Linked DNA regions of Homo sapiens. The protein of the gene in region 2 interacts with the protein of the main gene of each other region in a biochemical or structural test. Each region holds a gene or a part of one and is shown on either strand. Other genes may lie near its edges. The genes, in order: HDAC2, CSNK2A1, BMAL1, EEF1D, SUGT1, RPS3 and SSB.

The links.
Region 1: of the proteins of CSNK2A1 (region 2) and HDAC2, one has a biochemical effect on the other in vitro, tested with the Homo sapiens proteins (3 studies listed by BioGRID and IntAct).
Region 3: of the proteins of CSNK2A1 (region 2) and BMAL1, one has a biochemical effect on the other in vitro, tested with the Homo sapiens proteins (one study listed by BioGRID).
Region 4: of the proteins of CSNK2A1 (region 2) and EEF1D, one has a biochemical effect on the other in vitro, tested with the Homo sapiens proteins (2 studies listed by BioGRID and IntAct).
Region 5: of the proteins of CSNK2A1 (region 2) and SUGT1, one has a biochemical effect on the other in vitro, tested with the Homo sapiens proteins (2 studies listed by BioGRID).
Region 6: of the proteins of CSNK2A1 (region 2) and RPS3, one has a biochemical effect on the other in vitro, tested with the Homo sapiens proteins (2 studies listed by BioGRID and IntAct).
Region 7: of the proteins of CSNK2A1 (region 2) and SSB, one has a biochemical effect on the other in vitro, tested with the Homo sapiens proteins (2 studies listed by BioGRID and IntAct).

The regions. Positions count from the first base shown.
Region 1 is NC_000006.12:113,933,149-113,936,648, reverse strand, and holds part of HDAC2 (histone deacetylase 2), read left to right. Parts: 3' UTR 1-3,500. UniProt on the Homo sapiens protein: Histone deacetylase that catalyzes the deacetylation of lysine residues on the N-terminal part of the core histones (H2A, H2B, H3 and H4).
Region 2 is NC_000020.11:488,291-491,790, reverse strand, and holds part of CSNK2A1 (casein kinase II subunit alpha), read left to right. Parts: intron 1-1,909; coding exon 1,910-2,011; intron 2,012-3,012; coding exon 3,013-3,113; intron 3,114-3,500. UniProt on the Homo sapiens protein: Catalytic subunit of a constitutively active serine/threonine-protein kinase complex that phosphorylates a large number of substrates containing acidic residues C-terminal to the phosphorylated serine or threonine.
Region 3 is NC_000011.10:13,371,790-13,375,289, forward strand, and holds part of BMAL1 (basic helix-loop-helix ARNT-like protein 1), read left to right. Parts: intron 1-373; coding exon 374-620; intron 621-2,305; coding exon 2,306-2,412; intron 2,413-3,500. UniProt on the Homo sapiens protein: Transcriptional activator which forms a core component of the circadian clock.
Region 4 is NC_000008.11:143,580,416-143,583,915, reverse strand, and holds part of EEF1D (elongation factor 1-delta), read left to right. Parts: intron 1-2,587; coding exon 2,588-2,687; intron 2,688-2,761; coding exon 2,762-2,862; intron 2,863-3,188; coding exon 3,189-3,410; intron 3,411-3,500.
Region 5 is NC_000013.11:52,666,336-52,669,835, forward strand, and holds part of SUGT1 (protein SGT1 homolog), read left to right. Parts: intron 1-476; coding exon 477-584; intron 585-3,500. UniProt on the Homo sapiens protein: May play a role in ubiquitination and subsequent proteasomal degradation of target proteins.
Region 6 is NC_000011.10:75,402,518-75,404,962, forward strand, and holds part of RPS3 (small ribosomal subunit protein uS3), read left to right. Parts: intron 1-1,502; coding exon 1,503-1,690; intron 1,691-1,903; exon of another isoform or gene 1,904-2,049; intron 2,050-2,154; coding exon 2,155-2,348; 3' UTR 2,349-2,351; intron 2,352-2,445. UniProt on the Homo sapiens protein: Component of the small ribosomal subunit. The ribosome is a large ribonucleoprotein complex responsible for the synthesis of proteins in the cell. Has endonuclease activity and plays a role in repair of damaged DNA.
Region 7 is NC_000002.12:169,805,371-169,808,870, forward strand, and holds part of SSB (lupus La protein), read left to right. Parts: intron 1-103; coding exon 104-207; intron 208-294; coding exon 295-469; intron 470-1,414; coding exon 1,415-1,522; intron 1,523-1,600; coding exon 1,601-1,701; intron 1,702-3,111; coding exon 3,112-3,183; intron 3,184-3,489; coding exon 3,490-3,500. UniProt on the Homo sapiens protein: Binds to the 3' poly(U) terminus of nascent RNA polymerase III transcripts, protecting them from exonuclease digestion and facilitating their folding and maturation.

The DNA.
Region 1 (3,500 bases), on a different chromosome or scaffold from region 2:
ATTTTTGAGTGTTCCTTTAGATGCCAGATGGGTTGTATCTGAGCCTTTTATTGCAGTTTGATGCCTACTAGTGTGAAGACTACTAGGTCATAGTGGATAGAGAAGCAATCTTTTGGAGACCTGATTTTAGCAAGGATACGAATAATATTTGACAACTTTGGGGGGATCTTGATGCCTCTGTAATTTACTCAAGGATAATCTCAAGAAAAATGGCATTAAGTAGATTACAGAAAAAATAGAACTATCATATTGTTATTATTGGCTATTTACATGAGCAATGCGGAGAAATGTTTAGGATTACAGCATTTAGAAGCTTCTCAATTGCTGCATTTCCTCACTGTACCACAAGATGGCAGATACTGCATTTAAAATTTTTTTTTCTGTGTGTTTTCTCTTATAGTCACTTGGTGGCCATGTAACAAGCAGAGCAACATGTATTAACAGATTCTTTTTGAATGCAATATTGGATTAAAAACTTTGAATTAAACTACAATTAAGTTTACTGATTTAGGTTTTCCTATAAGAATTATAACACTAATTTCTAAGTTTTACATCTGCAAAACACAGTAGAGTGTATCTGGTAGTCATTGACTAATTGTGACTTTGCTAGTCAGACAAAATGGAACTGAATATTAGAGCCAGAATAATTTTCTGTTTTGACTGGTGGTAAGAATCAGTTAGTATACAGAATGGGAAAGAATTGAAATTTATTTCTAGGAATTATAGTTATAGTGAAGTTAATATTCAGGGGCATTGGGTGCTTGTTCCACGACTTTTGTTTACTGAACTAAGTACCTAACCCCTTTGGTCTTTGAACACTGCAGAGTTATGATTAGGATTATTAATGAAAAATTCTTTTTTAGTAGAACAAACAGTTAAGGACAGAAGACACCTTGATTAGATTCTGTTATTTGCTCTTTTTATTAAGATTGTTTTTACTCTAAATGTTAAAGAAATGTATAATTATTTCTAAGGTAAAATGAGTAGCAGGATTCTGAATAGGAGATTTTTTTTGGCCAGACCCATTTTGCAGCCAGTGGTTTGTATTTAGGAGTGAGTTGAACAAAGAAGACTCTAATCTGTTTTTGTGTTGTGGATTTTTTATTCTATTGATAAATCAGTAGCTTCCAGCTTCTCTTGTATCCTCTACTAGTCATCTTTTTTGTTTCTTCAGAAATAAACATCCAGGGTCACTTCCCTGCCCTTGCCATATACTTACTAGGATGATGTACAGGTAAAACTTTTAAAGGAAAGTACGGACAGGCAATTCCTAAAGTAAAAGAGAGCACATTATCAAAACTGGCTGTACTTAACAAATACCAACAAAAAGTCATTACACTTCTGGCAACAAATAATGTTTGATTTAAAAAGACAAGAATTTCCCCTTTTGCTCTTATTTTTTAAATATGCTATGTCCTTAAGTGAGAAATGCACTTCAAAAATTTTCTTATTCTGAAGTCTAGCCGGAAAGTTTGAACTTGTGTTGCCTTTGGCTAGACTAGGTGAAATTAAGGGGCTTAAGAGGGCACTGTTGTGTGGCCCTGTGGTAGATAATAGCCCTCCAAGCATGAGGATGGGAGATCTACCATTCACCAGTATTTCCAAAGTTATATTCTTAAAAAGGCTAGATTTCTAATTTCCGTAGAATCTAGGTATGTTCTTTTCAACTCAGCATCTGATAAGAAAGTTTGGGCAAGTAGGTGCGAAAAATTTACTCTAGATACCATTTTCCAGGAAAAAATATAATTCAAGTCCAACGTATTACTAGCTGTCACCTTCCCCAACAATCAAATAAGCATTGTTATTGTCAAACACATTTACTTGTATAGTTCAGTGTTATATGTAATGGACTTAGGTATAATTCCTGTGCTATTCCCTTTTGATGCCAAACACCCTTTTGTAAGCTGTTTTGTTTGAAATCCAAATTTATATGTCTTAAAGTAAATGGCAGCATTGGGCTTTCTTAATGTAATGACTCTTCTGCCATCCTATTTCTAGAGTTAGGCAGAAAATTCTGTAAATCTATCTTATTTCCAGTCTGTTTGTGACTATGGTGGGCAATAAATCTGATTTCCCAGAAAAACACATCTGGACCCCTATAGGTAAGGTAAACAAGCCTCATCTTAAATTGTTTGTACTTCCGACCTGACCTCAAAACACCATCATCATCTAGAGCAGCAACAAGTAAAGAACAATGCACTGGAAATCACATATATGGGTCTAGCACCAGCCTTTACATTACACAACTTTGCTTTGGGCAAGTCATTTAAATTTCTGTGCTTCAGTTTACTAAATCTATGAAACTGACTAGGTAACAGCTGACATGCTTTTCCAGCACTCCGTCTTTTACCTGTCTGATGTCACAAATTGATCATTCCTTTCTGGCCTTGAGATGCGTATCAACCCAGATAGTCATTAACCCAGATAGTTGGCATTCAGGATAAAATGTTTTTGCCTTTCCTGTCCTGCAAGCTCTTTAAAGTCCAAAATATGCCTTTATATCTTTATGTGTAATAGGTATGAAATCTATTTCTTGGTTGTTGAATAGGATAGGCTTATTAGACATTCTAAAGTCAACTTTTTTCTCATATTTAAACATTTACCCGTAGAAATTCAGTTTTTTAAAGTTTTAAGTCAGTTGATTGTACCAAACATTACTATTAAAAAAAAATCAAAGTCAGAGACCAGAGTTTCCCTGCATCAGCGTTCAGTCAGGAGACAGGAACTATACTAATTTGAACATGTAAAGTTAAATATAATCCTTAATAATAACAGGATTGGAATAAGGGATAAAAGAAAGAGAATTCCTTCTATATATATGTATACACACACATATATATATATACATGTGTATATATGTGTGTGTATGTATATTATATAATATACATACACACACACAAAGAATGTCAGACAAGGAGCAGCCACCATTCTGCTTACTTTCACTGGATTAAGAGTTTCATAAGGGCAAGGGTTTTGTTTGTCTTACACTCCACTGGGGATTAATCTCCAGTGTCTAGAACAGTGCCTAACACATAAATAAAGCCTCAATTATTATTTGTGGAATGGAATGGAATTTGAGTGAAATGGAATGGGAATAGAATGGACTGGAATGGAAATAGAAGTGGGAAGGGGAATGGAAGGGGATAGAAGAGGATTGAAGAGGACAGAAGGAGATGGGATAAGATGGGATGGGATAGGATCGAATCTCAGGTCCAGGAGTCAGAATAACTGAATCCTATTCCAGTTCTGCCATCAACAAGTCCTGTGAAATTTGGAAAGTCACTTAACCCTCTGGCCTTGTAGAATATCTCAGTGGGCATGTCTGATGTTTCTTCATGGTTAGATATAGGTTGCATGTTTTGGGCAAGAATATCACAGGAATGATGCTGTGTTCTCAGTGCACCCAGTCAGGTAATGCATGATTTCAATTTCTCTCATTACTGATGATGTTAACTTTAATCACTTAGTGAATGAGAACATGAGCATCATTTTGAAAGCAA
Region 2 (3,500 bases):
CACCACCCCAGCTAATTTTTCTTGTATTTTTAGTAGAGACTGGGTTTCACTGTGTTAGCCAGGATGGTCTCGATCTCCTGCCCTCGTGAGCCACCACGCCCGGCCTTTTGTTTGTTTTCTGAGGCAGGGTTTTGCTCTGTTGCCCAGGCTGGAGTGCAATGCCATGATCATAGCTGACTGCAGCCCCGAACTTCTGGGCTCAAGTGATCCTTCCAGCTTAGCCTCCTGAGTAGCTGGGACTACAGGCGTGCACTACCACACCCAGCTAATTTTTAATTTTTTTGTGTGTAGAGAGAAAGTCTCACTATGTTGCCCAGGCTGATCTCAAACTCCTGGGCACAACCCATCCTCACACCTTGGCTCCCCAAAGTGCTGAGATTACAGGCATGAGCCACCATGCCCATCCTGTAACTAAGTTTAACCAATCTTCAGAGTAAATTCAAGAATGTTTTCTTGTTCTTCTGAATTGTATACTAAATAAAAAGGTCTTCTCCCCAGCTCCCCCAAAAAGCCTTCTTTCTCCTCACAGAAAAAGGAGAAAGGAACCAAATTAATAATAGATTTGCCAAGTGTTTAAAAATCTGAAGTTTTCTTGGGAGTATCTTTTATGCCCAGTCTTTCCAGGTTATTATCAGTTGATTTTAAAAGTTTCAGACTTTTTGTTCTTGTAGGAATTTCTTTCTTGGGGTCTTAAGGCTATAGCCCTGAGTTCAAAAAGCATTTTATGCATAAAAATAGTTTTTACAGTATTACTAATAATTGTGAAAAACAGAACACTGTCCTATTATAGGAAAATTAAAGATTGAATTCTGAAACATTTATGTAATAAAATACTAATGATACACATTAGATGGTCTCCATGGGCTAACAATTTGGAGGTTTTTTTTTTTTTTTTTTCATGTAAGTGAAGAAAACAATTCAAAATAGTATGTATATTAGCTGAGCATAGTGGTGTATGCCTGTAATCCTACCTACTCAGGAGGCCTAAGCCCAGGAGTTGGAGGCTGCAGTGAGCTATGATCACGCCACTACACTCCAGCCTGGGCAACAGAGCAAGACCCTGTGTCTTTAAAAAAAAAAAAAAAAGAGCCAGGCACAGTGGCTCACGCCTATAATCCCAGCACTTGGAAAGGCCAAGGCAAGTGGATCACAAGGTCAGGAGCTCAAGACCAGCCTGGCCAAGATGGTGAAACCCTGTCTCTACTAAAAATACAAAAAAATTAGCCAGGCGCGGTGGTGGGCGCTTGTAATCCCAGCTACTCAGGAGGCTGAGGCAGAGAATTGCTTGAACCTGGGAAGCTGAGTTGCAATGAGCCAAGATCACACCCCTGCAGCCTGGGCGACAGAGCAAGACTCTGTCTCAAAAAAAAAAAAAAAAAGTAAAAATTGTTTTAAAACCGAGTGAAAGATGCATAAAAGAAAAAACTAAAAAAAAAACTAAAAAAAAAAAAAAAAGAAAAAACTAGCCAGGCACGGTGGGTCATGCCTGTAATCCTAGCACTTTGGGAACCTGAGGCGAGCAGATCATGAGGTCAGGAGTTTGAGACCACTGGCCAACGTAGTGAAACCCCGTCTCTACTAAAAATACAAAATTAGCCAGGCATGGTGGCACGCGCCTGTAGTCCCAGCTAGTCAGGAGGCTGAGGCAGGAGAATTGCTTGAACCCGGGAGGCGGAGGTTGTGGTGAGCCAAGATTGCGCCACTGCACTCCAGCATGGGCAGCAGAGTGAGACTCTGTCTCCAAAAAAAAAAAAAAGAAAGACTAAAAAGAAATATATGAAGATGTTATTAGTGTTTTGATTTTGAGTCAGTGGAGTGATTTTTTTTTAATTTTAAAAATTAATTTTTTATTTTGAAGTGACAAGCCTGAGGATTCACAGATAATAACAGTGAGTTTACTTTTATGCAGATGTACGATTATAGTTTGGATATGTGGAGTTTGGGTTGTATGCTGGCAAGTATGATCTTTCGGAAGGAGCCATTTTTCCATGGACATGACAATTATGATCAGGTAATATATGTTATACCCATTGAAAAATGTACTGGCCTAATGCAATGATAGCCAGCACTGCCTGTAACTTTCAGTTCACTGTTTATTCAGCCACCCCGATATTGATCCTTAGATTGATGTTTCGGGAGCTACCAGCTTAGCCTTTTGAAATCAGACATTCCCCCCTAGTCTTTGTCATTTGCATTGCTTATTTTATTGTGAAGAATACATATAAATTGTCATCCAGATTTTTAAAATAGGACATTACCTTAGAATTCTCCTAATAAACCCTTATCTCCAATATGGTGTTTTCTCCAATATGTGAGCCCATATGTGGTATTTCTGTGATCCTTTTGGCTCTTTATATGGGTTGAGTTACAGATGTTTCTTAAACTAACTCCACTTCCCCCTTGAAGATCAAAGGGCTCTTTCATTCACAAGAACCTGGAATGATTCTAGGACCTTGTGGAAGGTACCATTGTCTTGTTCCCTTTGAGCACCATGTCCAATTTTAATGAGTCAAAGAATACAACCTGAATTCCATTAAAGTCAATAACTCTGTATCAAGTGCATGCAGTACTGAGGAATACAGAAAAAAGAAAGAATAGTTTTCTTCCCCTCAGATAGTTCATAGCTGATCTTGTAAGGGAGTCAAACATACAACAAAATAGGTTACAGTCATAACTTCAGAGTAGAAATGTGGACAAGGCACAAAAGGCAGTAGTGGTGAGTAGTTTGAGTGTGCAATGGGAGCTTCCCAAAAGAAGTGACATCTTCAATTGGGTTTTGAGGGGAGAAAAATAAGGGTTCACCAGGGTGACATTTCAAGAGGAAGAAACCAGTTTATAAAGTAGTTTGCTTTTTCTAACACTATCACATTGAGTTGAAGTCTAAACTGTTAGGAGGTAGCATTCATACCTGTAGACATGATGACCCGTTTATGTAAATTCAATCATTGTTAATTGTTGATTTGTTAATATAATATGCTTGTGATATGGGTTTTTGTCTTTCTTTAATACTAGTTGGTGAGGATAGCCAAGGTTCTGGGGACAGAAGATTTATATGACTATATTGACAAATACAACATTGAATTAGATCCACGTTTCAATGATATCTTGGGCAGGTAAGTCATGAAACAAAATATGTGCATCTGTGGCTTAAGCACTTTGAGAGTGAACTGGCACTTAGGATCTTCAAAATAGTTATGTTTTCTTTGCCAGCACTGTCAGGATGTCAGTGGTCCAGTGCCACAGGATGCTGCATTGAGCAGGCCTCTGATAAAGGCATTGGATTGAATGGCCCTTTATTCAAATTAACTTACAGGAGTCTGATGGAGGGGTTATAGCTAGAGGATTCCTACAAAATGAATGTAGATTCTAGTAGAAGGGTTACAGTTGAGGCAAAAATCAAAATTTACCTTGCTTCTTTAAGTGAAAAACCTCTCTCCAAGAGAAAGAAATTGAAGTAGAAAATGCATGCTTTAAGACTGATGTGCAGGCTGGGCACGGTG
Region 3 (3,500 bases), on a different chromosome or scaffold from region 2:
CCTCTGTGCCTGTGTACGTCATCAGCCTTTATACATTCTAGTCCCTCAGCCACTGCTCATCCTTCTTGATCCACCTCCTCTACTGGTTTTTTGGGGGAGCCTTCCTCTCCCTAGGAAGAGTTAGATATTCCTTCCTTGGTGTATGTAATGAATGTCCATGGTATAACTGGCCCTACTTAAGCATTCTGACACTGGATGACAGTTTGTTTCTCTTTCCGTCTGCCCCTTTCATTAGATGCTTACTTCTGGAGAGTGAAGCCTTGATTTTTTTTTATTTTTTGACTCCCTACCTACATCCCATCCCACCATCGGCCGTGTACACCTCCATGGCCCAAACCTAGTGCTGACACTAACCACGAACTTTGCTTTCTAGCAGATCGAAAAAGCTTCTGCACAATCCACAGCACAGGCTATTTGAAAAGCTGGCCACCCACAAAGATGGGGCTGGATGAAGACAACGAACCAGACAATGAGGGGTGTAACCTCAGCTGCCTCGTCGCAATTGGACGACTGCATTCTCATGTAGTTCCACAACCAGTGAACGGGGAAATCAGGGTGAAATCTATGGAATATGTTTCTCGGCACGCGATAGATGGAAAGTTTGTTTTTGTAGACCAGAGGTAAGAGTCTACATACTACCCTTGAGCAATGATGGTAGAGGATTTTCAACCCTGATCTAAAAAGCAGAGAAGACTGGGCCATCAGCTGGCTTTTCTAAGAATGAAGAAAGAAAGAAAAAGCTGGGTGCAGTGGCTCACACCTCAAATCCCAGCACTTTTTGAGGCCAAGGTGGGTGGATCACTTGAGCCCAGGAGTTTGAGACTAGCCTGGGCAACGTGGCAAAACCCTGTCTCAACTAAAAATACAAAAATTAGCCAGGCATGGTGACACATACCTGTAGTCCCATCTACTCTGGAGGCTGAAGCAGGAGGATCAGCTGAGCCTCGGGAGGTCAAGGCTGCAGTGAGCTGTGATTGCACCACTGCACTTCCGCCTGGGCAACAGAGTGAGACCCTGTTTCAAAAAAAAAGAGACAAATGATGAGAGTCTCTGTTAAAAAATGAGATTCAATAGGATATCATCATAAATACAGAGATTTTTCTGTCATTCTTTGGCATATAGAGACAATTAAGTGGGGTGCCTTGATGTCCATGGCTAAAAGAAAAACAGTAGGGATAGCATGCTGTCTGAATCTATGGAATGTTCCAGAACCATTATTGTGATTGAAATTCTTTTGAATCTAGGACTTGGAAGCAATTATTTAGTCCTGAGCTGTCCAATAAAATACTCGTTGGCCATGGTAGCCTCCCATGTGGCTAACGGCACAGACATAGAACATTTCCATCATCACAGAAAGTCTTGTTGGACAGCGTTGATCTAATCCAACCTCCTTATTTTATGGATGAAGAACAGAGGCCAGCCTGGGGACTGGTCTCCTGTAGGATTCACAATTAATTGGTAATAGACCTGGACCAAGGACCCAGGTGTCCCAAATTTACTGCTGCCTACTGCTTTCCCTCAGAATATGCACAGGCTAATAATTTTTCTGGCTACTAGAGACAGCCACAACATGCTGGAAAAAGAGACAGCCTCAGCTGTCTTGTGGCCTCAGCTGCTGCAGCTTCTGGCATTTGGTTGTCCTGATAAAAAGGAGGCAGCAAAAACTAGAAGCCTTGCACTGAGGTTTAGATTTATACCACATTTTAATCTAATTAATGTGGTTCCTTTTTTAAAGACAGATCTCAGTCTGTCACCCAGGCTAGATCTAGTGCAGTGGCGAGATCTTGGCTTACTGTAGCCTTGACCTCCCGGGCTCAAGCAGTCCTCCCACCTCAGCCTCCCAGGTAGCTGTGACCATAGGCATGTGCCACCATACCCAGCTCATTGTTCTGTGTTTTTGGTAAAGACAGGGTTTCACCATGTTGCCCAAGCTAATCTTGAATTCCTGAGCTCAGACAATCTGCCCAACTCGGCCTCCCAAAGTGCTGGGATGACAGGCATGAACCACCATGCCCGACTGGTTGCAATTTTTAAAGCCCCCTCAGATTTGATTTCTTGTGATAATAGTCCCTTTACAAAGGCTTTGCTCTGTTTCCCTCTATTTTTATAGCCTTGATTAAATTCAGATGCCTGAAAAAAAGAGAGAAAGATCCACACAGTGAGCCCTCTGAAAATCCATCCAGCTCTTTTGCCTGCAGCTTTGACCTTGCTCTCATAGGCTGTAGCAGGGTTTATCCATTGCAAAGTTGCAATTAATCATCTGAATGGCTTTTTCTTCTTTAAATATTCCTTTATTCCCTTTTAGGGCAACAGCTATTTTGGCATATTTACCACAAGAACTTCTAGGCACATCGTGTTATGAATATTTTCACCAAGATGACATAGGACATCTTGCAGAATGTCATAGGCAAGGTAAGCTAGGATGTATGAAAGATCTTAAGTTGAAAGTGTCCCCTTGCTTCTAGACTAGTCAACATGACCTTCCAGGGAAATCTGTCCACTGAGGATGTAGAGTCAGCCAGCCTAGGACTCTTCAGGTCAGAACATCTGTGTGAAGAGGAAGCTGATACCTGCAGGCACTGTTTATCCCCCTTGTAGTTGCCCTGTGCTGACTGCATGGCAGTTTCTGAAAGACATCTCTTGTTCAGAGGGTTTTCCCAGACCCTGTAAAGATTTAGTATGGCCCAGACTGATCTGATTCTCTTTTCCATTCAAGCCTGCACTACCTCCTGTGTTTTCTGTCTTGACTAATGCTGTGGCTTCATGTGCAGGCTCCTGAGAGAGACCAACATTGACCCCTTCTTTCACTGTGTCTCCACCAGATCCTGTTCATTCACCTCAGACATGCATTTCCAAAAGTCTACTTTTTACCACCTCTGCCATCACCCTGGTTCAGGCCCTCGTGCCTACTTAGAGACCTGTGATAGACTTCTCAGGGTTTCTCTGATCCCTCTCACCCCCAGTTCATCTTCCATAGTTATCCTATTTATCCCCAGATAGATTGAGCCTGGTAACATCAGCCTGCTTAAAAACCTCCTGCTTTAGACTCAAGCCCAAATGCTTTTGACAGGCAATCAAATGTGAGACCTTCCACCTTCTGGCCCCAGCCCACCTCCTCAGTTTCAGTCCCCATCCCTGCCTGCAGAGGCCTGTGCTCCAGGCACACTGACCTCACTGGCCTCTCCCCAACCAGACCCTGCTGCTCCTCAGGCACTGCTGGGTTCTTCCCTCCCTCCTTCTCTTGGCAAACTCGTGTTCATCCCTCAAGGCTCTGATCTCTTCTCCCTGTATAGCCTTCCCTCACTACTCTTCTTGAGGGCAGGAGTCATAGCCTGTCTCCTCTTGTATCTCCAGTGCCTGGCACATGAGAAGGGCTCATTACATGTTACATGAAAGAATGAGGTTGAATAGGTGAGTAGCCTCTGTTGATTTGGATGTTCTTAGAAATGAGATAAGTTCTATATTGCCCTTGGGCTTTGTGATTGAGATAAAGCATGACA
Region 4 (3,500 bases), on a different chromosome or scaffold from region 2:
CACTCAGCCTCCCTCTCCCCTCCCTCGCTCCTGCTGCCTAGTGTGGGCCCTTGTGATGACAGTGGGCCCACCTGGGTGATCCAGCATCCTCTCTGCCGCTTAACTTAATCTTATCACATCTACAGAATCCCTTTGCCATGGGAGACCATATTTACAGGCTCTGCGGACTCGTATGTGGCTTTGTGGGGGCCATTGTTCTGTCTGCCACAGCCACAGCCACCTAGGGGTGTGCTGGCTCCCGGGCCATAAGCTGGGCATCCCTGGGTGGGTGGGCCCAGGAAGGGCTGCCACTCCTGTCTGCCAGGTGGGGTGCTCCTTTGTGCCTTGCGTTCTGCCCACTGGCTTGCACCCCTGGCTTGCCCAGGCACCTGACCAAGTCCAGGCTAGGCAGACATGAGATTAAGGGAGCACAGATTTTTGCGCCCAAGTCAGGCATATTGCACTCCAGTGCCCAGAAGGCAGCGGTCGGGGGCTTGGCCCTGGGGCTGCAGGAACTCTTCAGCCCTGGCTGTGTGGAGTCAACCCTAAGGTGTCTCTGGGACAGGCAGGTGGTCGCACTGTTAGGGCTTAGGGACTGGTTTGCTGCTATAACAAAGGTCCATAGACTGGGTGACTTAAACCACATGTATTTTCTCACAGCTCTGGAGGCTGGAAGTCCATGATCGAGGTGGCAGCAAGGCTGGTTTCTCCTGAGGCCTCTCTCAGCATGTAGACCGTCTTCTCCATGTCTTCACACGGTCATCCATCTGAGTGTGTGTGTGTCCTGATGTCTTCTTATTGGACACCAGTCAGATTGGATTAGCCCCCTGCCCCTCAGTGACAGTTACCTCTGCAAAGGCCCTGTCTCCAAATAAGGTCACATCCTAAGATACCGGGGGATAAGACTCCAGCATGTGGATTTGGAAGGACATTATTCAGCCCATGGCAGGGGCCCAGTCTCATCTTGGATTTGGGGTGGGAGTGCTCAGCAGACACTGGGGTTTCAGAACTGCAGGGTTTCTGGTAGCGTGGTGCTGGCACAGGGTTACAGGCATGGGTCTGGCTCTGAAGTGTTTGCCTTTGGCATCCCCCAAGTCCCTGAGGGGCTCTCTGAGGCCCGCTGTGACTGCACTGGGTGACCTGAGCCTGCCCGTTGAAGCTGTGCTCAGGGATTCTGATGCCTGGCATCCCTAGTCCCCCCTGAGTCAGCATCAAAGGAGGGGACTCTCCCTGTGTCCTGAGTGCTGTGGGCTCTGGCCTAGTGGCCCGCAGAGCCAGGCAGTGGTGAGACGGCCCCCGCTGCTCATCATGCAGCCCGGGGCCAGTGCTGACTTAGTGCCTCTTCCAGAGGGGACCTTTTCCCTGTCCTTGGGCCTGCTGTGTGGGGTGCATGAGGCCTCAGGTGCCACTCACAGACTCCGGCCTCCTCAGGACCCAGCCCCACTCCCGCGGGAGGTCTGCTGTGATTCTCCATGCCCCCTGGCGCCCCAAAGCCTGGCCCTCCCGTGCTCCGGCTTCTGCCCCCGAGTTTGTCAGTTTCTGCCGGTGCCTCCCGTACCCCCACCACCATTCACGCGCCTCTGCCAGCCTGGCCTTTCCCTGTCCATTTCCTCCTGGCCTTGCTGCCAGGTGGGCCTCCTGGGCCAGTTTGGCTCGGCCTTGCCCATGATCTGCGGGGCTTAGCTCCCACACCCTCCAGATACATAAACAAGCATTCCCCACAGCATGGTCCCAAGGACGGTGGCAGGAGGGCCCCAGGGATGGGTTTGCACGTTGGGCAAAGGCCTGAGTATGTCCGCACCTGCTGCAAGGAGCGGCTTTGCCTGCCCGGCTACTCCAGGCCCCTCCCCACAGAGAGGGAGCCCCGGGGAGCTGCCGAGATGGGGTTTGCTGAGAGCTCCATGCAGCCAGGTGCACCCTGTCCTTCGAGCCATCCTGTTGGAGGGTGGGCAGGCTAAATGGCCCATGCGTGCAGGTAGATGCTTAAGGACTGGCTAGTGTTAAGGGCCAGGAGGCTGGGATCCTGTCTGGGCCCCGAGGTATCAGTCTCAGCTATGGCAGAGTATGAGGTGGGCTTGGGGCCCTGGATCACCTAGAGACTGGCTTGCTGAGTGAGATGGCAGGCGTGAGGCCCAGGGAGACAAAGCTTTGGGTGGCTGCTGTCCACACAGGTGGGCTCCTTCCTTCTTCCCCCACTGGGCCCTCAGCTGCTCCCGCCTCCCATTTCCAGTGCTGCCTGGTCCCCTGAGGCGTGTCCCAGGTTGTCCCTAGGACTGTGAGTCCTTCAGCACCTCCCACCCAGCCTCTGAGCCTGGCTGCTCAGCAGGATTCCGCCGGGCAGCAGCAGCCATGGCCCAGCTCCCCACAGCCTCCGTCTCTGGGGCACCAAGAGCCTCCTGTCCTGGACTTTGCCTGGCTGAGAATTTCACTGTGGTCTGTGGTGGCCGCCACCTCTGAGGTCATAAGTTTGAGCTGGGCATCAGCGGGGGGCACCTCCTGCTCTCCCGAGCTGTAGTTTTCCTTCCGTGAGTTCCTGCAGTCCTGAGCATGGCAGGGGGACCCTAGGAGCAGGCTGGGCACTGAGCCCTCCCCTCCTCCTGCCTTGCAGAGCTCAGGCCCCGGGGCCTCCAGCGGCACCAGCGGAGACCACGGTGAGCTCGTCGTCCGGATTGCCAGTCTGGAAGTGGAGAACCAGAGTCTGCGTGGCGGTGAGGCCCCGGGCCAGTGGGTTGGGGCTGTCCCTGGCCCCTGCCATCTAACCGTGCTCCCCTTGCCCCCCCAGTGGTACAGGAGCTGCAGCAGGCCATCTCCAAGCTGGAGGCCCGGCTGAACGTGCTGGAGAAGAGCTCGCCTGGCCACCGGGCCACGGCCCCACAGACCCAGGTGAATGCTCTCCCCACGCCTGACACTGCAGGGGACCACGTGGCCCTGCTGGCTTCCACGTCGCCCTGTGGGCTGGCCCCAGCAGCAGTGATGAGCTGGCAGCCAGGATACTGGAGTCCTCAGGTCCCCAGGAAGGTTTACAGTTAGCCCTGGGCAGGTGGAGGCAGTTTTTGTCTTTCCTGGGGCCCTGCATGTACACAGCTGCGGTACACAGGGGCTGCCCTTCCTCCAGTCAAAGGAGGGAGGAGGGCCAGGAGGTGGCCAGGCAGCTCTGGGCCCTGGTTGGGGCGTCTCAGCCGTGCCTCCTGTCCCTTCCCCTGTGGCAGCACGTATCTCCCATGCGCCAAGTGGAGCCCCCAGCCAAGAAGCCAGCCACACCAGCAGAGGATGACGAGGATGATGACATTGACCTGTTTGGCAGTGACAATGAGGAGGAGGACAAGGAGGCGGCACAGCTGCGGGAGGAGCGGCTACGGCAGTACGCGGAGAAGAAGGCCAAGAAGCCTGCACTGGTGGCCAAGTCCTCCATCCTGCTGGATGTCAAGCCTGTGAGTGGGCGGGGTGGGGCTTCAGGGGGCCAGGCACTGCCCTGGTGCCCGCCTAGCCGGCTCAGCCTGTGACCCTCCCCCTGCCCTCTG
Region 5 (3,500 bases), on a different chromosome or scaffold from region 2:
CAAAGTGCTGGGATTAGAGGCATGCACCACCGTGCCCAGCCTCTTGAGTATGACTTTTAACAACTTGATTTCTTACCATTTAGTAGAGAACCTTATAATAGATTATTTAAAAGAGGTAGTGATAGAACTGTATGTTTTGCACATGGATCACTTTTTGTTATATATCATTTTGCTTTTGTATGTTTTCTTGAAATCTAAATATCAAATAGGTGTGATTAAATATATGACAAATATTATGAAACTTATTCTTTTCTGCTGTTTAATGATGTCTATAAGAATTCATGTCAAGGATACCAGATGGAAAAAAAAGGTTCTTAAATCTTTGAGAACCTTTTGAGGTTCTTAAATCTAAAATTCCATATATAATGTTTAAAATAATTTGTAACATTATTGAAGATTTGTCATTATTTTGTGTAGGTTTTTTACCCTCCATTATATACATTTACAAAATGTGATGCTAATTTTGTGTTCATTAGTTGTCTGCTTTGGTTAAACTTCCTTCTGGAGAGGATTACAATTTGAAACTGGAACTTCTTCATCCTATAATACCAGAACAGAGCACGTTTAAAGTACTTTCAACAAAGGTAAGACCATTGAAAAGTTTGTTACTAGTAATATTTTCAAAATTATAGAAATACTGGTGAACTAATCACCCATGTGTTTATAAGCTTGTAGATTCTTTCAGCCCTTTAACAGGGACAAGAAAATAAGAATGATAACTTTTGAGTATAAGGGTTATTTTACCTCTCAAATTCTAGTACAGTAAAGAATAAAAATCCACTTAGAGTGTGTGGCATTTGTGTATTTACTAAGACAGATATAATGTTTTTCAATAAAGGGGTTTTTTTAAAAAGATACAATAATCAGCCTGTCTTTAAGATTTGATACTGACAATGTCTCTTCCCTTGAACTTGTCAGTTTTGTCTGTTTTGATGTACAAATACTTTTGTCACCCTACCTCATGCAGTTAAAAATACAAACTACAAGAAAGATGAATCTGCCTTTTGTTTTTTTTGTTGTTGTTGTTGAGACGGAGTCTTGCTTTGTTGCCCAGGCTGGAGTGCAGTGGCGTGATCTCGGCTCACTGCAACCTCTGCCTCCTGGATCCAAGTGATTCTCCTGCTTCAGCCTCCCAAGTAGCTGGGACTACAGGCATGCACCACCACGCCCTGCTTAATTTTTGTATTTTTAGTAGAGATGGGGTTTCACCATATTGGCCAGGCAGGTCTCCAACTCCTGACTTTTTTTTTTAAACTGAATTTTAGATTACTCTATTATGAGGGAACAATGAGTAAATTATAGTTTGAGTAATTTTTAGATTCCTTTATAGTTTCTAAAAGAAGTAGAGATATACAACAGAATTAATATTCAGAGAGTATCACTCAAAAGATGTAGATAATAGTGTAATTTAGTAGGAAAAAAACTGAAAATTTAAAAATCTGACTCTGGATCTTTGCTTGCCCTGTGTATTTAGTCTAGGCACAAAATGACTATAAGACTGAATTTTCAGCACCTTTGAAAGGAGGGCTGTGGACCAAATGAACTCTGGAGTCCTTTCAGCTGTAGAATTGTGTGAAGGTATATGATAAATGAGTTAATGGGAATAAATGATGTAGGTAGGCTTTTTCCATTACTACTTTTTTTTTTTTTCCTTGTTTTTGAGATGTAGTCTAGCTCTGTTGCCAGGGTGGAGTGCAGTGCTGTGATCTCAGCTCACTGCAACCTCCGCCTTCTTGAATCAGGTTCAAGTGATTCTCCTGCCTCAGCCTCCTGAGTAGCTGGGATTACAGTCATGTACTGCCACGCCCAGCTAATTTTTGTATTTTTGTAGAGATGGGGTTTCACCATATTGGCCAGGATGGTCTTGATCTCCTGACCACGTGATCTGCCCACCTTGGCCTCCCAAACTGCTGGGATTACAGGTGTGAGCCACTGCACCTGGCCTATTACTCCTTTTTTTATACATAGGTCCTGCAGCATACTGTGTTAGTATTTATTAGGTTGAAGCTCTAAGGACATGTGAAGTTTCCTGTTGTGGAACAGGATCGGGGTTGGCCTGTGTTGTGAAGAATGATAATTGGGCCTGCAGAAAGGACACAGCTGCAGAGGGTTGGAGAAGAAAGTGTAAAGTGAAGTAGTTTTTTGCATCCAGTTAAAAAGGATCTGCCTACTTATTTGAAGATTGTCAAGAACAAAGCTGGTTAATTATGAGGCAGATTTTTGAAATAGCTGCTTGGGACAATAGAAAGTGAGGAAAGGGATGAAATCTTACCAGGATTTTGGTCTCTCACTGGTCCTATCCACATAGTATAGAATTTGTTTAATAAAAGAATTTTTAGTAATCAAGCACAAAATAGGTAGATTTGAGAGGGATATAGTTCATAAAATAATGAATTTGACTTTTTTTGGTATATGTCTATCGAGATTGCTAATGCAAGTGAGCTGAGATCACTACGTTGCACTCCAGCCTGGGCAACAGAGTGAGACTCTGTCTCAAAAAAAAAAAAAAAAAGATTGTTAATGCATGTCCATTTGGAGTTATTTAAATTGAGTGTGAATTAATGATAAATGACTTAAGAACTTGTATTACTGAGCCACCTCCTATAGTGGAAGAATATCATGTGTGGTAAATACATAGATGTGTGGCTAGAGTTGAGGATGTAATTAAGCACTCTTATCTCAATTCTTTTTTCTCTTTTGAGTCTTGGATTTGTTAATTTTAACCATTCTTCAACCATACTACTATGTTCTCAGTTTGCCTTTTCTGCCCCTTCCTCTTTAAATGCTAAGTGACGACTTTTCTTCCTTATATAGTAGTTTATGTATACATTTCATGTCCCTCGTTTCTGTGTAAGTCTTTGAGGATAAGAAGCATGTTTTATTTGTATCTTTGTATGTGCCCCAGTTAGGGTCCCCAGATAAAGTTACAAGATGTTCATTTAAGTTTCTATTTAAGATAAACAATGAATAATTTTTATTATGTAAATATGTTTCATGCTATAATTTTATTTGCTAAACTTGGCAGCCCTCACCACATACATTGCACAGTGGGTGCTTAGTTCAGTGAATGAATTAAAATTGGATTTTGGTTTTAGTCCCATGACATTGGCAGAGAATGTTTATTCTTAGTTTTGCAGGTGGAAAAACAATCATGTTAATGGAGTTTAAATACTTTCCCCAAGTTTACCTAGTTAACTAAATTCTTCAGCCTGGCCTAGGAGACGTAGATACACTTCTGATTGCCAACCAAACTAGTGCATCTTTGCTTAGGTTTTTCTAAGTTTTGAATTGGAGAACTTAGATTCTAAGGATGTGTCCTAAAGAATTATTATTTTTCTTGTCCTGACCCTGGAATCTCTGTATTTTATATACCATATATATATATATGTGCACACACAAAATCTTGTTAGATTACTAACTCTTAAACTATTTGGGGGGAAGCAAATTGAAAGAAGTTTTCTTAATTATGTCTTAAGGGAAATAAATGATAAAATCTTTGA
Region 6 (2,445 bases), on a different chromosome or scaffold from region 2:
TAGCAGATGAACTGTTACAAAGTTACAGGATCTGCTAGTCTCCCAGGGTTATAATAAGATACTAAGTCATGCCCTCACTGAACTGGCAGGCTAACAAGACTACTAAAGCAGCAAGAACTGTAAAGGGTGGTCAGTCCTGTAATGGAGAAGTGTTCTGGGTGCTTTGGGAGTTAAACACAAATAGAACTGTCCAAGGAGGGGACCAACTCCTGTTGGTCTTCTTGAGAAGGCTTTACAAAGAGCCCTGTTGCGGGGGGCGGGGCAGTGGGCAATGAGGAATAATTAGGCCTGTTACTGGGTGTGTTACGTATCCCTAGGTAGAAGTGCCTTAGTACTAGTTAGGATACCATGAAACTTTAGTAGCAATCATTCAAATCTGCTTAGTGTGTTCACTCTTAAGATGGTATTGTGAAGAGATAAGATAGACCTGATGCAAAATAGCTTAAAATCTAGACACTTAACCTCTGAGTTGCATGCAGATAGTAGTAATGTGAGGGTCTACTGGTAAGATTTCAACAGGAAGTTCTTTGTGCAGTTTGACTGTATGTAAAGGCACTGAAATGCCTTGCCTAGAGGAATGACAGGAAAGCTGTGCTGTAGGAAGGTTGACTGGTAGGGATGGGTAGTGTAGGCAAGGCTCTAGGTAAGGACATAGAAAAGACGGCTTACCTGGTTTGAGTGCCAGCTAGGCTGCTTAGAACAATGGTTCTCAAGATTAATGCCAGCCCCAGACCCACCAAATGGGAAACTGGATGTGTGACTCAGCAATCTGTCTTAATAACCCCTCCACATGCTGTTTGCACACATTGAAGCAAGTTAATGAACCTCTCAGCCTGGGATCTGTTATCTTCTAAGGTGGACCATTATACCACCTCTCAGTTGTGGAATATTAAGTAAGATAATGTGAAAGGGCCTGGAGGTGGCTAGCTCTCCAGTTAGTATCTCGCAGAGCGTAAACTGCCGAATGAGTTGGGGGGTAGGTCATATTTTAAAGTGTTTTATCAGCGTTCTAATAGCAAGATAGCCAGGATCCTAGGTGGGTAAGCTTTCCTAGTGAATGAGACTTCGGAGGTTGCAGAGTATTTCAAGGGACCACAAAGTGGGTAATTGTGGAGTGTAAATGTGGTTCTCAGTTTTGGTTATACATGAGAATCACCCAGGGAGCATTTTTAAATAGATATTCCTGGACTTTGCACATTTAATTGGCCTAGAGTAGGGCCTAGATGTCAGGGTTTCTTTTGTTTTTTATTTTAGCCTTCTGAGGTGATTCCAGTATGCAGCCAGGGTTGGAAAGTACATATTTAGGAGCTTGACATACTTGATGAATATTACCCTAAGGTTCGGAATGATAGGTGTGGAAGAGAATTGGTATTCTTGGGGCCGGACTCTGGTCAAATTATTCTCCATTAAAGGAACATTGAAAACCAAGTCTTTGTTTTGTTTTTTAAACTTGGTGGAGGTCCTTGGCAATAACACAGTGGCTCTCTTCTGTTCTTTTAAAGGGCCTGCTATGGTGTGCTGCGGTTCATCATGGAGAGTGGGGCCAAAGGCTGCGAGGTTGTGGTGTCTGGGAAACTCCGAGGACAGAGGGCTAAATCCATGAAGTTTGTGGATGGCCTGATGATCCACAGCGGAGACCCTGTTAACTACTACGTTGACACTGCTGTGCGCCACGTGTTGCTCAGACAGGGTGAGCAGCTGAGAGTGCTTGGCAAAGGGCATTTGTGGACAGATTTGGTTTTCCACAGACATCTTAAGTATTTGGGGGAGTTTATCATGGAAGTAGCTGGGCATGTTCATATTCCTTGGTGTATCGATTGCCACGTTGATCTGTAAGAATCGATTTGCTGAGATCTGTCAGATCCAAGAGTTGGTTTGTCCTTGTTTTAGCCATCTGTGTACCCTTCAGTGATGACACGATGACGAGTCAGAAAGGTCACGTCCTGCTCTTGGTCCTTGTCAGTGCCATGTTCTGTGGTGCTGTGCACGAGTTCCTTTGGCAGAAGTGTCCTATTTATTGATCGATTTAGAGGCATTTGTCTGAGAAGGGTCCAGACCCAGGGGTGCTTGAGTAAACTGCTTGCTCTCTTTGGTCTTGTGTGATGGGGGCCTTTGAGACCCCAGCTGTGTGCTAACAACTGTGGTGTCCTCTAGGTGTGCTGGGCATCAAGGTGAAGATCATGCTGCCCTGGGACCCAACTGGTAAGATTGGCCCTAAGAAGCCCCTGCCTGACCACGTGAGCATTGTGGAACCCAAAGATGAGATACTGCCCACCACCCCCATCTCAGAACAGAAGGGTGGGAAGCCAGAGCCGCCTGCCATGCCCCAGCCAGTCCCCACAGCATAACAGGTATGTCTGCAAGGGCAGGGGCCTCTTGGGGCATAATAGGGTCCTTCCGAGTCTTTCTGTTAATACTTGTATCCCACATTCTGGTAAGCGTTTG
Region 7 (3,500 bases), on a different chromosome or scaffold from region 2:
AACTTATGTATTTTTAAATAACAGAACTTGGTACTGTAGAGTAATGTCAGGATTGGAGTCCATATTATACAGTGTTCTGAAATACATTGTAATTATCTCACAGTATTATTTTGGCGACTTCAATTTGCCACGGGACAAGTTTCTAAAGGAACAGATAAAACTGGATGAAGGCTGGGTACCTTTGGAGATAATGATAAAATTCAACAGGTAACAAGCTTTTAAAAATAATCTTTAGGTTTTCTGTTTACAATGAGTGCTACTGCTGAGTCTTATGTTTTTATATGTACTCTTCAGGTTGAACCGTCTAACAACAGACTTTAATGTAATTGTGGAAGCATTGAGCAAATCCAAGGCAGAACTCATGGAAATCAGTGAAGATAAAACTAAAATCAGAAGGTCTCCAAGCAAACCCCTACCTGAAGTGACTGATGAGTATAAAAATGATGTAAAAAACAGATCTGTTTATATTGTAAGTGGGCCTGTAATGCATTTAAATATCTTACATTTATTTAGAAAGTAAAGTACGGAAGAATAAGGGCTCAGGAATCACAGCCTCACTAATTACTGTATGTCCTTTCGTAATATTCTTAACCTAAGTTTCTTTTGTTTTGTTTTGTTTTGAGACAGTCTCATCCTGTTGCTCACGTTGGAGTGCAGTGGTGTGATCATGGCCCACTGCAGTCTTGACCTCCTGGGCTCAAGTGATCCTCCCACCTCAGCCTCCTGAGTAGCTGGGACTACAGGTGCATGCTACCATGCCTGGCAAAAAATTTTTTGTAGAGACGGGTCTTCCTGTGTTGCCCAGGCTGGTGTCAATCTCCTGGGCTCAAGTGATCCAATCACCTTGACCTCCCAAAGTGCTGGGATTACAGGTGTGAGCCACCATGCCTAGTCCTAAGTTTTATCTTCATAAACGTGGATATTTTCTACCTTGTAGAACTGTTGTGAGAATTAAATGAAAAAAAATATATATACCATTGGATGAAATCTTTGACATATTCTAAGCACCTATTGCCTATTAGCTGTTCTTATTTATCAGCAGCTAAACTTGATTGCAGTTTTCTTTAGTGTATTTTTAAATAGTTTTTTATTACGGAAAATTTCAGATACATATATAAATAGATTCAATAATGTACCATCACCAGCTTTAGTAGTTAATAACAGAACATGCAAATCATCTTGTTTTATTTCTGCTTCAACTGAATTATTTTGAAGCAAATACCAGATGAATCACTTTTATTGTACTGGAGAGTAGTGGCTCCTAAACAAGGCTGTTAAGTGATTAACAAAGAGAAATAGAGATAGATAGGTATATCCTGGGTTCATTTCAAGAAAAAATGAATCAAATTCTCTCCAATTGTTTATCTGAGAAGTCATTATTTGTTATTTGTACATTTCTTCCCACTCTTCACAGAAAGGCTTCCCAACTGATGCAACTCTTGATGACATAAAAGAATGGTTAGAAGATAAAGGTCAAGTACTAAATATTCAGATGAGAAGAACATTGCATAAAGCATTTAAGGTATGATAATACAGACTTTTTCTAGTTTTAAAATATATGGGACATAACTTAAAAAAATATTTTCCTTCCTTTTTACAGGGATCAATTTTTGTTGTGTTTGATAGCATTGAATCTGCTAAGAAATTTGTAGAGACCCCTGGCCAGAAGTACAAAGAAACAGACCTGCTAATACTTTTCAAGTAAGTCTTTTTGCTGATGTTTCTCCTGGCCTTTTACTTATATGGACACACACTAGGGTAAGGAGCATGGAAGTAGTATCCCCTGAAAGGCCAATATTCTTAGTATCTTTAGATGACCTTTGAGAAATGCTTGATATTTGTTCAGTGAGAACTATAGTCTTTTGAGACTATAAGAAAAGTGTTCATTAGTACCTTTTCACTGTTAACAATTTTTTTTTCTTTTTCTTTTTTTTTTGAGACAAGTTTCACTCTTGTCACCCAGGCTGGAGTGCAGTGGTGTGATCTTGGCTCCCTGCAACCTCTGCTTCCTGGGTTCAAGCGATTCTCCTGCCTCAGCCTCCTGAGTAGCTGGGACTACAGGCGCGTGCCACCTCGTCCACCTAATTTTTGTATTTTTAGTAGAGATGGAGTTTCACCATGTTGGCCAGGCTGGTCTTGAACTCCTGACTTCAGATCATCCGCCTGCCTTGGCCTCCCAAAGTGTTGGGACTACAGGCGTGAGCCACTGCGCCCAGCCACTGTTAGCCATTATTAAAGGAGGTTATGTTTTAATACTGATTTTGCATCTAAAACTTTTGATCAGGCTGGGTATTAAAATTTGGTCTTTTGTGTGTTTGGAAAATATATCAATGCAGTTTTCATCTTATTTTTCATAGCCTATATGTCTTTTTTTTTTTTTTTTTTTTTTTACAGTACAAAGGATTTGAGATTTGGGTCACATTCTTTGTGAATGTGTGTCTGTCTAAGTGTCTAAAAATGGGGATGAACCAGAGCATTTTCATGATAAAATTAGGTGTAGGGCCATAGTTCCCTACTTTAGAAGACTGTGCATTAGTCTTCTAAATGGTATATACTAAACTTGATTGACTTAGAGATGCACTGTGATGGGTCATAGTATCAGTGTTAAATCCTCAAAAATTATTTAACATGATTTTCATATGTTATTGTTGGATCTTGGGGATTTTAGAATTTTCTCCTTTTGTGGAATTAACACTATAGAAAACTGCAATATTATTTGCATGACTTCTGATACACTTTTTTCCCTATACATGAATGATAAATGGAAATCAACATGAAATTGCTAATGGATAGGGGGTTTCTTTTTGGGGTCATGAAAATGTTCTGAAATTAGTAGTGATGGTTGTACAACTGAATATACTAAAAAACATTCAAGGTACACTTTAAAAGAGTGAATTTTGTGGCACATGGATTTTTTCCTCAGTAAAGCTGTTATATAAAAAAACATGAGAGAGTAAATTCCTTGGCATATTTTGAATTTTTAGTTGATGATTATGTTGATAGTAAGCGTGTGCAACATTCATTGCTGTGCCATGTCTTAAGTTATTCAAAATAATCTGCAGTCTTAACTTTGTTCTCGTGAACTTAGCCTCTGTACTGTGTGTTCTTTAGGGACGATTACTTTGCCAAAAAAAATGAAGAAAGAAAACAAAATAAAGTGGAAGCTAAATTAAGAGCTAAACAGTAAGTATGTTGAACTAATCACGACATAATTTGAATTCCTTAAAGCTCTGACAGAAATATAGCTGGTGAGCTCTGAAATAGTGGCAGTAGACCTTTCTCTTTGCTAGTGAAACACTGAGATCTTAAGCTGCCTTGACAATCTCAGGGCCAAATTGCATTGCAGTCTAGCATTGGACGATCAAAAAAACCTAAGGACTTCTGGCTTTGGTTAAGTAAGTTTAGTGATCATGATTGGTTAACTTTATTAGGACTTAATTTTCTTATATAGTAAATAGAAGTATGTTATAATTATATTTTTATTTGTAGGGAGCAAGAAG